2 separate regions of the Homo sapiens genome follow, and region 1 is linked to region 2. Evidence: fine-mapped expression QTL. A gene starts in region 2. The other region holds a variant in brackets. All regions are shown on one strand. Distances are between the middles of the regions. Region 1 holds the start of RCOR2 (REST corepressor 2). Region 2 holds the start of MARK2 (microtubule affinity regulating kinase 2).

What was found.
Region 1: its variant is fine-mapped to the expression of MARK2 in whole blood (TOPMed, PIP above 0.99).

What each region holds. Positions count from the first base shown.
Region 1 is chr11:63,913,997-63,918,996 of GRCh38, reverse strand. RCOR2 (REST corepressor 2) reads left to right here and starts at 1,833. Exons shown (of 12, transcript NM_173587.4): 1 at 1,833-2,667; 2 at 3,386-3,442; 3 at 3,739-3,819; 4 at 4,043-4,095; 5 at 4,181-4,342; 6 at 4,456-4,580; 7 at 4,667-4,736; 8 at 4,828-5,000. The coding sequence starts at 2,541. RefSeq lists silencers at 955-1,004, 1,682-1,741, 1,882-2,001 and enhancers at 2,093-2,756, 3,378-4,330. The variant G/C (reference allele first, on the strand shown) is at 2,171.
Region 2 is chr11:63,835,818-63,841,321 of GRCh38, reverse strand. MARK2 (microtubule affinity regulating kinase 2) reads right to left here and starts at 2,212. Exons shown (of 19, transcript NM_001039469.3): 1 at 1,762-2,212. The coding sequence starts at 1,815. RefSeq lists a silencer at 1,878-2,117 and enhancers at 2,128-2,277, 2,538-3,526.

The sequences.
Region 1 (5,000 bases), 78 kb before region 2:
GAGAATGAGGTTCTTAGGAGGCGGGGAAGAGGGATGCTGGGCCGGAGGGAATCCAGTGGCTGGGGATCCCTGCTAGAGAGACTGGGGGTACCTGGGGCAGCCCTGGAGTAGGGAGGCAAGAAATAAGCAGGATGCTGAGCCTGGGGGTGCAGGTTTGAGTCTGGGAAGGAGGCAAGGGGGATGGGGGACTCAACTGAGGCCCTGCCTAATAGGGGGCGGGGGCAAGATGGAAGACAGCACCGTAGGAGAGGCTGGTGTGCAGCAATGGTTGCCTGCCAGGCAGGAGGGGACAGAAATGAGAGTCTCTCCAAAGGGTGGAGGTGCTGGGGACAGGGATGGCGCCCTGCCACTTAGGAGGGGTCGGCCTGGGAAGACTCTCAGTCTTGAATCAGACCTCCTTAGCTCAGACCAGCCCCTGGTCCATTCATTCTCCTTTGTCCAGACCTCCCCACCCTGGGGCTTGGTGCCCAATCCATGATTTAAGAGGAGGATAAAGGCCCCGTAGCCCTGGCCCGAGGTGTGGCGGGCAACGTGGCCGCTGGCTGGGTGGCCCCATGTGGCTCGACGGCGCAGCAGCCGGGTGGGGTCGAGCCTGGCTTTCCCTGGCTGTCCGCAGGAGTCCCCGGGAACAAGCGGCCCCAGCCGGGTCGTGGCCCGACCGCAACACCCCGGCCACTCGGCCGCAGGCAGCGGGTGGGGGCAGGGATCCCTGGCTGGGCCCTAGGCTGCTTCTAAATTTAGGAATCTGATTACAGAGTGGACCAGGAAGGGAAGGGAGAGGAGGGCGCGAGTGCGGGCTCGGCTCAGTCTGGGCACAGCGGGGTGTGCCTGGGTGGAGGTGTGTCCAGGAGACTGGGGCTCCGGGTGGGAGGGGCGGCGGGCGGGGGCTTCAGCTTGTGTGCGCTGCAGCACGTGCCCCGGGCGGCGGGGACGGGCACGGGCGCAGCTCGCAGGCTCGGAGCCGCCGCCGGTGTGTGCGCTGGCTCTTTGTGTGCCTGGCAGGGTGGCTGGGTCTGGCTTTGAAAGTCTCTGCCCACCCCCTCCCCCATCTCCGTCTGTGCCGCTCTACCCGCTTCCCTGTCTGTCACTCTGCCCGTGCTTGTCCGGGGGGAGGGGGATGCTGCTTCCAGCTGGGGTGACAGTGAACCCAGTGGGGAGGAGACCCAGCTCCTCTCTCCCCTGCAGCCCAGACCTTCCCCTACACCTCCCACTCCCCATCCCTCAGCCCTTGCTACCACTGTTTAGGGGTGCATACTGCAGCAGTTAAAGGGAATTGGGGCGACCCTTGGGGACCCACAGATCCACCAGAAGCCAGCCTCTGGCTGGGTAGCTCTTGGAGGAATTCATTCCTTGCCTGTCCAGCCTCCCATCCGTTCTGGCCCCCAAGGGCGCATAAGGGGGGTCCCCCCTGCGGAAGGGGGGGCGGGGAGTTCCTTGGCAGGAAGGGAAATGGAAGGAAAAGCTGGGCTCCACCCGGGCGGGCGGGCAGGCGGCCCCAGGGCCCCCGGGGCAGGCGGCAGTAACCCGAGCCCACTGGTGTGTGGTGTTGGTGTGCGCGTGGGTGGGGCTGACCCCTGGCTACTCCTGGGGGGCAGTGGGGTCTCCCCCAGGGGCAAGTCTGGGAGCCCAGGGACGCGAGGGGAGCCCCCGCAGCGGGACGCGCGCCCCACCAGGGTCCTGATCCCACCCCCTGGAGGTCTGGCCCCGGCCCCCTGGCCCCGCCCCCCGGGCCCTCCCTCCCACCCCAGGGCCAGATGTTCAGCTGGCGGAGGCATCGGCTGGGGGAGGGGTGCTGAGGCCGCAGCCGGCACTACTTCCCTGCCAGCAGCTTCATTGTGTGCGCGAGGAGCGAGCGGCGGCGGAGAGCGGGCGAGCAAGCGGCATCCCGAGCGCGGCGGGGAGAGCGAGCGCGCCGGGGAGGGTGCGAGGCGGCACCCGCGGCTGCGCTCCGCCCGCCTCCCGGCAACTCTGCCCAGCGCCGCGCGCCGTGCGCGCCGTCCCGCCGCCGTCGCCGCCGCCGCCGCCGCCGGTGCCCCGGCCGGCTGCCGTCGCGGGCAGGGGTCTGCTTAGGACACGGGTCCCCGCCCGGGGACTGGGGCATCCCCGGCGCAGCTGAGAGGCGCAGAGCCCGGGGGGCGCAGATTGCGCTCCAGCGCCCAGCCGCTGAACG[G/C]CGTGGGCAGGTGGGCGGTGGGGTTCCAGGGCGCCCCGAGGACAGGGGGCCCCGACTTCAGGGGAACCCCAACCCTGAGGGGCGTACATAGTAATCACGCCCCAGCCGCACCGGACCTTGCGCTCATCCCTTGCGTCCCCCACTTCTGCACAAACTTTTCTGACGCCCTGGCTCGTGGGGGTCGTGGAGAGCGCTGGGGCTACCAGGTGGGCTCCCACCCCGCCGGACCCTAGCCACGCTGACCTCCTGCCTCTCCTAACCTCAGTGGCGACCTCTCCAGGCCGGGCCGGGCTCGGCACTCGGAGCGAGTGCGGCAACCACTGTCGCTCTCCGAAGGCTCCTGCGCCCCCCGGGGCAGCTGGGCGGGGTAATGCCCTCAGTGATGGAGAAGCCGAGCGCGGGCTCTGGGATCCTGTCCCGTAGCCGGGCCAAGACGGTGCCCAACGGCGGACAGCCCCACTCGGAGGATGACAGCAGCGAGGAGGAGCACTCGCACGGTGAGCCCGGTGGCCTAGGGTTAAAGGCGCGCCGGCCTGGGGGGAGCGGAGTGGGGCGGGAGGGGGAAGAGTTGCAGACCACGAGCCTGTTACACTGATGGCTCCTGCCTCTCCTGGATTGGAGCCTCTGCGTTGCTTCTCCCACAAACCCAGGCTGCCGGCACAGCCAATCTGGAACCTGGGCCCCTAGCTGCTGTGGAGGCGTCCTGCCGGCCCCTGCCCTGCCCTCACCCCCTCAGGGACCGAGGCATCCCTCCCTTGCATAGAGTGGGTCCCTCATACCTTGCCACCTTGCAGGGGACTGAGGTCTGGCTGGAGCAGGGACTGGAGAGACACCTCCACACAGAGCTGTGAGGCTCCTGTGGTGGGAAGGAGCCTTGGGTTCCTTGCAGGGCTGTGGTCCAGGTCTAGGGGCTGCCCTCCAACCCCGCTCCCCTCCCCCGGAACAAAGCACCCTGCTTGGCCTGGGCTCTAAAACTGTCCCCTTGTCCACCCTCCAGCCCCAATGGCCATGGCTGGACAGGGTCTTTTCCTCTTCCAGTCCCTTCTGTGGCTGCAGGTAACTGGGGTACAATGAGGGAAAAGTGAGCCTCCTGGAAGGTGGGGGCCCTGGGTGGTCAGGAAGGAGAACTCCAGGCCGGCCACCTCCCCCGCCCGCCACATCCTCCCTCCCGCCCGCCCTCCCTGGAGTCCTGACTGCCTCCCCCTGGCTCCACAGACAGCATGATCCGCGTTGGAACCAATTACCAGGCCGTAATTCCGGAGTGCAAGCCTGGTGAGCCGCAGGACAGGCTGTGAAGTGGGGTGGGGGTGGAGGCCCGGGGCTTGGCCTGCAGCCCCACCTGGGGCGCCCTTGATTGGCTCCCCTGGAAGGGCAGGCTGGCAGGGGTGGGTGGCCCCCCAGCATGGTTTGCTTTCCTGCCCTGCCTTCCTGTCTGGGTCTCTGCCCCTCCTTCCCTTCTGGGCCTCAACCTCCCTGGCTCCACTCCTCTGCTGCCCTCTGGCCATGGGTCTAGGCTTGTGCCACCAGGCTGATCTGAGTGTCTTCCCTCCTGCTCCTCGGCCTTTCAGAGAGCCCCGCACGCTACAGCAACAAGGAGCTGAAGGGGATGCTGGTGTGGTCACCCAACCACTGTGTGTCAGATGCCAAGCGTGAGTGGGGCACAGCCCTGGGAGGTGGGGGCTTGGGTTCATCCCAGCTCCAAGCTAGCTCTTCTCAGAAGGGGGCTGGAAGCTGAGGTGTTCGTGGGTCCAACCCTTGCCCTGGGGCTCGTGTTCAGGGACCTGGCCGTTGTGGGGTGGTCCCTTTCTGGACAGGCCTGGGTTAGGAGCTATAACCCCCTTCACCAAGACCCTGCCCCTGCTGCCCCTGCAGTTGACAAGTACATTGCGATGGCCAAGGAGAAGCATGGCTACAACATTGAGCAGGTGAGCCTTGGCCCCCAGGGACTTGGGAATGGGGTGGAACGGTGCCGGGGCAGCTCAGGCTCAGCTGCCCCTTGCCCCGGGCCAGGCGCTGGGCATGCTTCTGTGGCATAAGCACGATGTGGAGAAGTCGCTGGCCGACCTGGCCAACTTCACCCCATTCCCTGACGAGTGGACAGTAGAGGACAAGGTGCTGTTTGAACAGGCCTTTGGCTTCCATGGCAAATGCTTCCAGCGGATCCAGCAGATGGTAAAGCCCTTCCACCCCCACTCCCCGGCGCTCCTCTGCCCCTCCTTTCTGAAGAGCTTACCTGGGGCCCAGAGTCTTGAGTGGTCCCCAGCTTCTGGCGTTGCCTCCTCCAGCTGCCTGACAAGTTGATTCCCAGCCTGGTGAAATACTACTACTCTTGGAAGAAGACCCGCAGCCGAACTAGTGTGATGGACAGACAGGCCCGGCGGCTGGGGGGCCGCAAGGACAAAGAAGACAGGTGGGGGCAGGAGCAAGCACTGGGCATGGGGGTAGGTAGAGCTCCTGGCAGCTGCCTCATTCCCTCCCTGGCCCCTGTGTCAGCAGTGATGAGCTCGAAGAGGGTCGAGGAGGCGTGAGTGAGGGAGAGCCCGATCCTGCAGATCCCAAGAGAGAGGTGAGCTCCCAGAGCCTCTGGGCCCTGCCTGCCTGTCCTCTTGCCTCTCTCTGGCTCTGCACCACCTACCTGCCTCTCCTTTCACTGGCAGCCTCTACCCTCTCGGCCCCTGAATGCACGCCCAGGCCCTGGGAAAAAGGAGGTCCAGGTGTCTCAGTACCGCCACCATCCCTTGCGAACCCGGCGTCGCCCACCCAAGGGCATGTACCTGAGCCCTGAAGGCCTCACGGCAGTGTCAGGAAGCCCGGACCTTGCCAACCTCAC
Region 2 (5,504 bases):
TGCAGAGAAAAACTCTGCCTAGAACTTCTCTTTAGTTCCTAACTGCCCAGGTGACAGAGGGCCAGGGGGTAACAAAATAGAAAAACACAGTAAAAGAAAGGAGGTAAGATTTTTCAAAGAAGAATGTTCACATGCAAGAGAATACAACAACTGCTCTACCGGGCTACAAAGAAAGAAGGGAGTAAGAGGGAAACATAAAGGATGGAAGGAGGGGAAAGAAGGCAAAAAGCACAGCAGCCCCGGGGCAGAAGCACTTCTTTTTCAAGTCAAGTTTTTTTGGCCTAGTAAAGTTCTCCACCAAGAAAGGTATGACAGGCAGGGGACTCTGCACAGAGCAGTCAGCAAAGGACGCTAGAGATGGTGAAAGAAAGGGGAGGTGTGGAAAGTGGACGTCTCTGGGATCAAAAGTGAGATGACACAGAAAGGCTAAGACTTGGGTGAAAAACATAGCAGTGACTGCCAGGATGAGGGGGACCGTGTAGAGTCGTGAGGCTGAGGTGTAGCTCAAGAAACTAGCATGCAAAACACCTGGACTTCCTGGGCATTACAGAGACTTAGCCAATAGGAACAGAATGGATCCAAGCACGGTGTGGGGATACACAGGACATGAAGAAGGCAGGAGACTAATGCGGAGATGAAAGGCAACGCTGATTAAAAGGCACAGTAAGGAAGATGGGGTGAGGGTGGAGAAACAGGAAGGCAACAAGCAAGAAAGAAAATACTCTAAGTGCCAGGCACGGGAGTGAAGACACAGAAAGTCATCATGGTTTGTGTTCCAGCGTACGAAGACAGAAAGGCAAAAACTGTGATGCAGCGAGGTCTGGGAAAGGACTGAGCAACAGGTTGTGTTAATACGGTGGGGCCAAGTGTCTTTGGGTTGGGAGAAAGAGCCCAGTAGAAGGCTGGTAGAACACTCACAGAGAGAAACAAGAGGCCCAGGGACCTAAAAGCCAAACCCGAGGGGAAGAGAACAAGAGGGATCCAAAGACTCTGAAGGGAGTGATGATTGGAACCCCAAACGCAACCTGTGGGAAAACTATGCGCATGACAGCTGTGGGGAAACACGGAAGCGACAAATGCCAGCGCCAGGATCCAGGGAGCTCCTGGAGCAAAGAAGGGAAAGTGATGAGCAAAGAGTAGGCGAAGGATTTGGAAAGGTGATGAGGGTGGAGCTGGTGGGTTGCAAGCAAGAGGGAGAGCACAATTTGGAAAACGAAGAAGCAGGGTAGAAAAAGCTGGGGGAACTGCAAGGGGCCAGGGATCGAGAGCGCAGTCCAGGGCAAGGACCCTGAGGGTGATAACCCAGAGACTGGCAGAACCGGTGCGGGCGGAGGGGAAGCGAGGCAGGAGAGACGAAGGGAGAGGTGGACAACGATCTGTGGCAAATCGCGGGGTGCTGCTATTCGAGGAGCGGGAGGGTGGCTGCTTTAAGCGTGGGTGGAGGAAGACCAGAAAGGCCCCTGAGAGAAAAAGGGAAGAGAAAGGGAAGCTGGGGAGGTGACACGGAAGAGCGCAGGAGGGCGGTGAGGGGAGACGGGGGTTGGCAGAAAGACAAGTGTGCAGCTTGGAGTCAGGACGAGGTGGGTCCCAGGTCAGGACTCGGAAGCGGGATGTGCGGAGCCGGAGCCAGGAGCCGGATGACAGGGCAGCCGAGGCTTGCAGGATGGCAGCAGGGGCACGAGGAGAGCAGAAGAGGGAGGAGGCTCCGCAAGGTGCAAAGGGCCCAGCCAGAGAATTCGGGGAGCCCTCGGGGCTCCTTACCTGCTCCGTGTCCCTCTCGTTCAGCGTGGGTAGGGGGGTCCGAGCGCTGGACATGGCGCCGGTATCTCGGGGGAGGGAACCGAGAAGCTTGGAGGAAGGGAGGGAAGGGAAGGCGCGGAGCCCGGCCGGGCGGGGCTTCTCACAGCAGGAGCACCCGCCGCATGGGCCCCGGCCGGGGGTGCGGGGAGGCCGGGCAGCCGCTCACGCCAGCCCGGGGATGCGCCGCTCGGGCTAGGCCGCGCCGGCTCCGAGCGGCTCCGGACCGCACCCCCCCGACCCCCGGCTGGGCTGTGCCGCCTTTCGGCCGGGCCGCGCCGCTCCGCCTACTCTCTGCCGCCGCAGCCGGCCGCCTGCCTCGCTCCTCCCCTGCCCTCAGCGGCACTGCTCCGCGCCCGGCACACAGGCAGCCGCCGCCGGACCTGCTGCTCCCAACATGGCCGCCACCACCGCCGGCCCTCGGCTCTTTTCGCCGGCAGCAGCCGGAAACATCCGAAGCGGCTAGAAACGGGAGGTGGGGCGCGCCTTCTCCTCCCGGCCACAGACTACGGGTGAATTCCGGAAACAGCCGAAGAAGGTAAACCCCGGGGACGCGCTCTCCTCCTCGATTCCGAAGACGAAGCTTCGGCTCTGTTTACGGAAATCCACGAAGCGACCCCGGGTGCCTACCCCCCGCCCCCGTCCACGGCCATCCAGCCACGCCCACCGGCCTTTCCCCGCCCACTTCAAGGGGGCTTTCGGCAGTTTCCGGAAATACCCGAAGCTGCTCCGCGTGCTGAGCCGGCCACGCCCCCTCCCACAGCCCTGCCGAGGGCGGTCGTCGGCCATTTCCGGCAACACCCGAGGCCCTCCGAGCACCCGGTCGTTTCCCCGGGTGGCTCTCGGAGTCTGATTCGCTTCGTGTCTTTCCGTCAGTTTTCGGGCATTTTCAAACCTTGAACAGGAAGCGTGGGTCACCTGTCTGTGCTTGTGATTTGACTAAATACAAAACAAGATTGTTAGCCGTCCCTGTGATTGGCATCCTCTGGTTCTATAGCAGCTTCCTGTCTGCATTTCTGTCCATCTGTCGGTCAGCTCATAAAATTCATCTTCTTTTTATCATCTAGCCTATCAATATACCTGTCAAATGCAGCATCAGTCTATTGCCTGTCTGCCACCGTCTATCTTGGCTTCTGTGGATTCATCCGTGCATTCCCGCATCTAGTCCGCAGGGCTCGGCAAGGCCCCAGGCAGGCCCAGGGCAGCGTCCTCTGCACCGGATGCGGGAGCGTCCAGGGCCCTGCATTTCAGCCCCAGCTCTGCCAAGTGCCAATGCTGCGTGATCTTGGAAAAATCACATAACATCACTGAGTTTAGGCTCCTCTTTCCTTTGCCTTTGCTCCTGCGTTGACATTCAAAATGACATTTCTGAATTCCAGTTACCTTTTAAAATGCCTCTGCAAGATAAGGCATTTAAAGTTTCTTTTCTTTCCTCCTCTGGGCCTCATTTTCCCCATCAGTAAAGTGAAGCCATTGGATTCATGAACTCGGAGGTCCTTCTCAGCTTTGGAGAGCCCTTGACTAACAGGAAGTCTGTATGGCAACTGCAGTCCATTCCTCACTTCCCCTTACACTGCGTTACCAAGGACAGGGAGTATCCTGGGCTGATTTCCCCAGCGCCAAGCTGTCCTCACCCATAGTACCTGGAACACGTTGGAACCACACCCTCCCATCAGTGGCTTAAGGTGGGCAGGAGGCAGAGGCCCCGCAGGAGTCAGAAACCAGACTCAGGCAACAGGTTCCCAAAGGTACAGGAGCAGAGAGGCTCCAGGAGTTATTGGGAAAACTGCTGATTGGACCCCTGCTACTTGACCTCCAACTCCCAGCTACAGCATCTTGAGCCAGCCTTCATCCCATCAATCAGAGAAATAGGCATCTGAGCAGATGTAATTACCAGGGTATGAAAGTACTTCCTAAGGCAACAGGTATCACTACACTCTTAGTAAATCCTGGGACTTCAGCACTGCTCCCCATGCCCCATACCAGCTCTATTCAGGCACCCAACCGTTGAGGAAGAAGGTGAAGGCACACCCATGAAGGTGAGGGAAAGAGAGAAGAGGAGGACAGAGAACACCTCACTCCCCAACCCAAATTCGATCCTTGAGAATCATCTGCCCTCTGGTGGCCAAAGGGAGACACGTTGCTGATTCCTGTGCCTGGTATCACCTCTAATGCCAGGGTCTGGAAAGCAGGGAAAAGAGAGAGGAAGCAGTTGGTGGTTGGTGTTCCAGCAGTCTCTCCCTGGTCCACACTCTCGTCTAAATAGACTCCATCTTCTCCAAGCTTCTCACTCTAGCTCTAACCCCTGCCTCACCCCTGCCCTTTGACCTTCATCCCCAACCCCTACCCTACCTATCCTTTCTCTTCCTTGCTAGCTTTGCACAAGGCTGCTGAGCTTGTCTCCCCGCCTAGACTCCCTCCAACCTACTGCACCAGACATGTCAGAATAATCTTCCCAAAGTCCAGCTCCAATAACATCTCTGCTCTGCTAGAAAGCTATCACCAGCTCCCTCACTGGTTATAGGCAGGGCTGGCTTCTTGGGCCCACGACCCCATGCAGTCACACAGAGCCCTGTGCTCAGGTGGACCCTGAGCTTGGATTAATGCTCTGCTGTCACCATCTTGAAATTTTTTTTTTTAAGACTGAATCTCGCTCTATCTCCCAGGCTGGAGTGCAGTGGTGCGATCTCAGCTCACTGCAACCTCCACCTCCCAGGTTCAAGTGATTCTCATGCCTCAGCCTCCTGAATAGCTGGGATTATAGGTGCCCACCACCACACCCGGCTAATTTTTTGTGTTTTTAGTAAAGACAGGGTTTCACCATGTTGGCCAGTTTGGTCTAGAACTCCCAACCTCAAGTGATCCACCTGCCTCGGCCTCCCAAAGTGCTGGGATTACAGGCGTGAGCCACCACGCCCGGCCCATTATCTTGAAATTTTTGACCAAGGGGGCCATGCATTTCCATTTTGCACTGTGCCCCACAAATTATGTAGCTGGTCCTGGCTGTAGGAAAAGCCTTTAGCCTGCATTTAAAACTTTGCTCAATCTGGCCTCACATTGCCTTACAATAACCTCTCCAACTATCACTGATCACACTTCTCCCTAACTCCTACCCCGCTGCCAGTCTCTCTCACTTCCATGCCTTTGGTCAAGCTGATAGATGATTGCCCATCATCCACCTCAGCTTCCAGAACCACTTCAAGATCCAGTTCAAATCTCACCTACTCAAATCCATGAACCCTCCTAGTTCTCCTCAAAGATGAATTATTGCCACACATTTACCCCCTCTCTAAATCTGCAAATTCATTTATTCATTCAGCAAATCCCTACTGAGCACCTACTATGTGCAAGGCATTGTTTTAGGCTTTTAGGTAGATCAGTGAACAAGATAAAGATCTCTGCCTGCCAGGCGCGGTGGCTCATGCCTGTAATCCCAGCACTTTGGGAGACCAAGGTGAGGGGATCATGTGAGGTCAGGAGTTCGAGACCAGCCTGGCCAACATGGTGGAACCCCGTCTCTACTAAAAAAAGCACACAAAAAATTAGCCAGGCACGGTGGTGGGCGTCTGTAATCCCAGCTACTTGGGAGGTGGAGTCGGGAGAATCGCTTGAAACCAGGAGGCAGAGGTTGCAGTGAGCCGAGATCACCACGCCACTGCACTCCAGCTTGGGCAACAAGAGAGAAACTCTGTCTCAAAACAAAACAA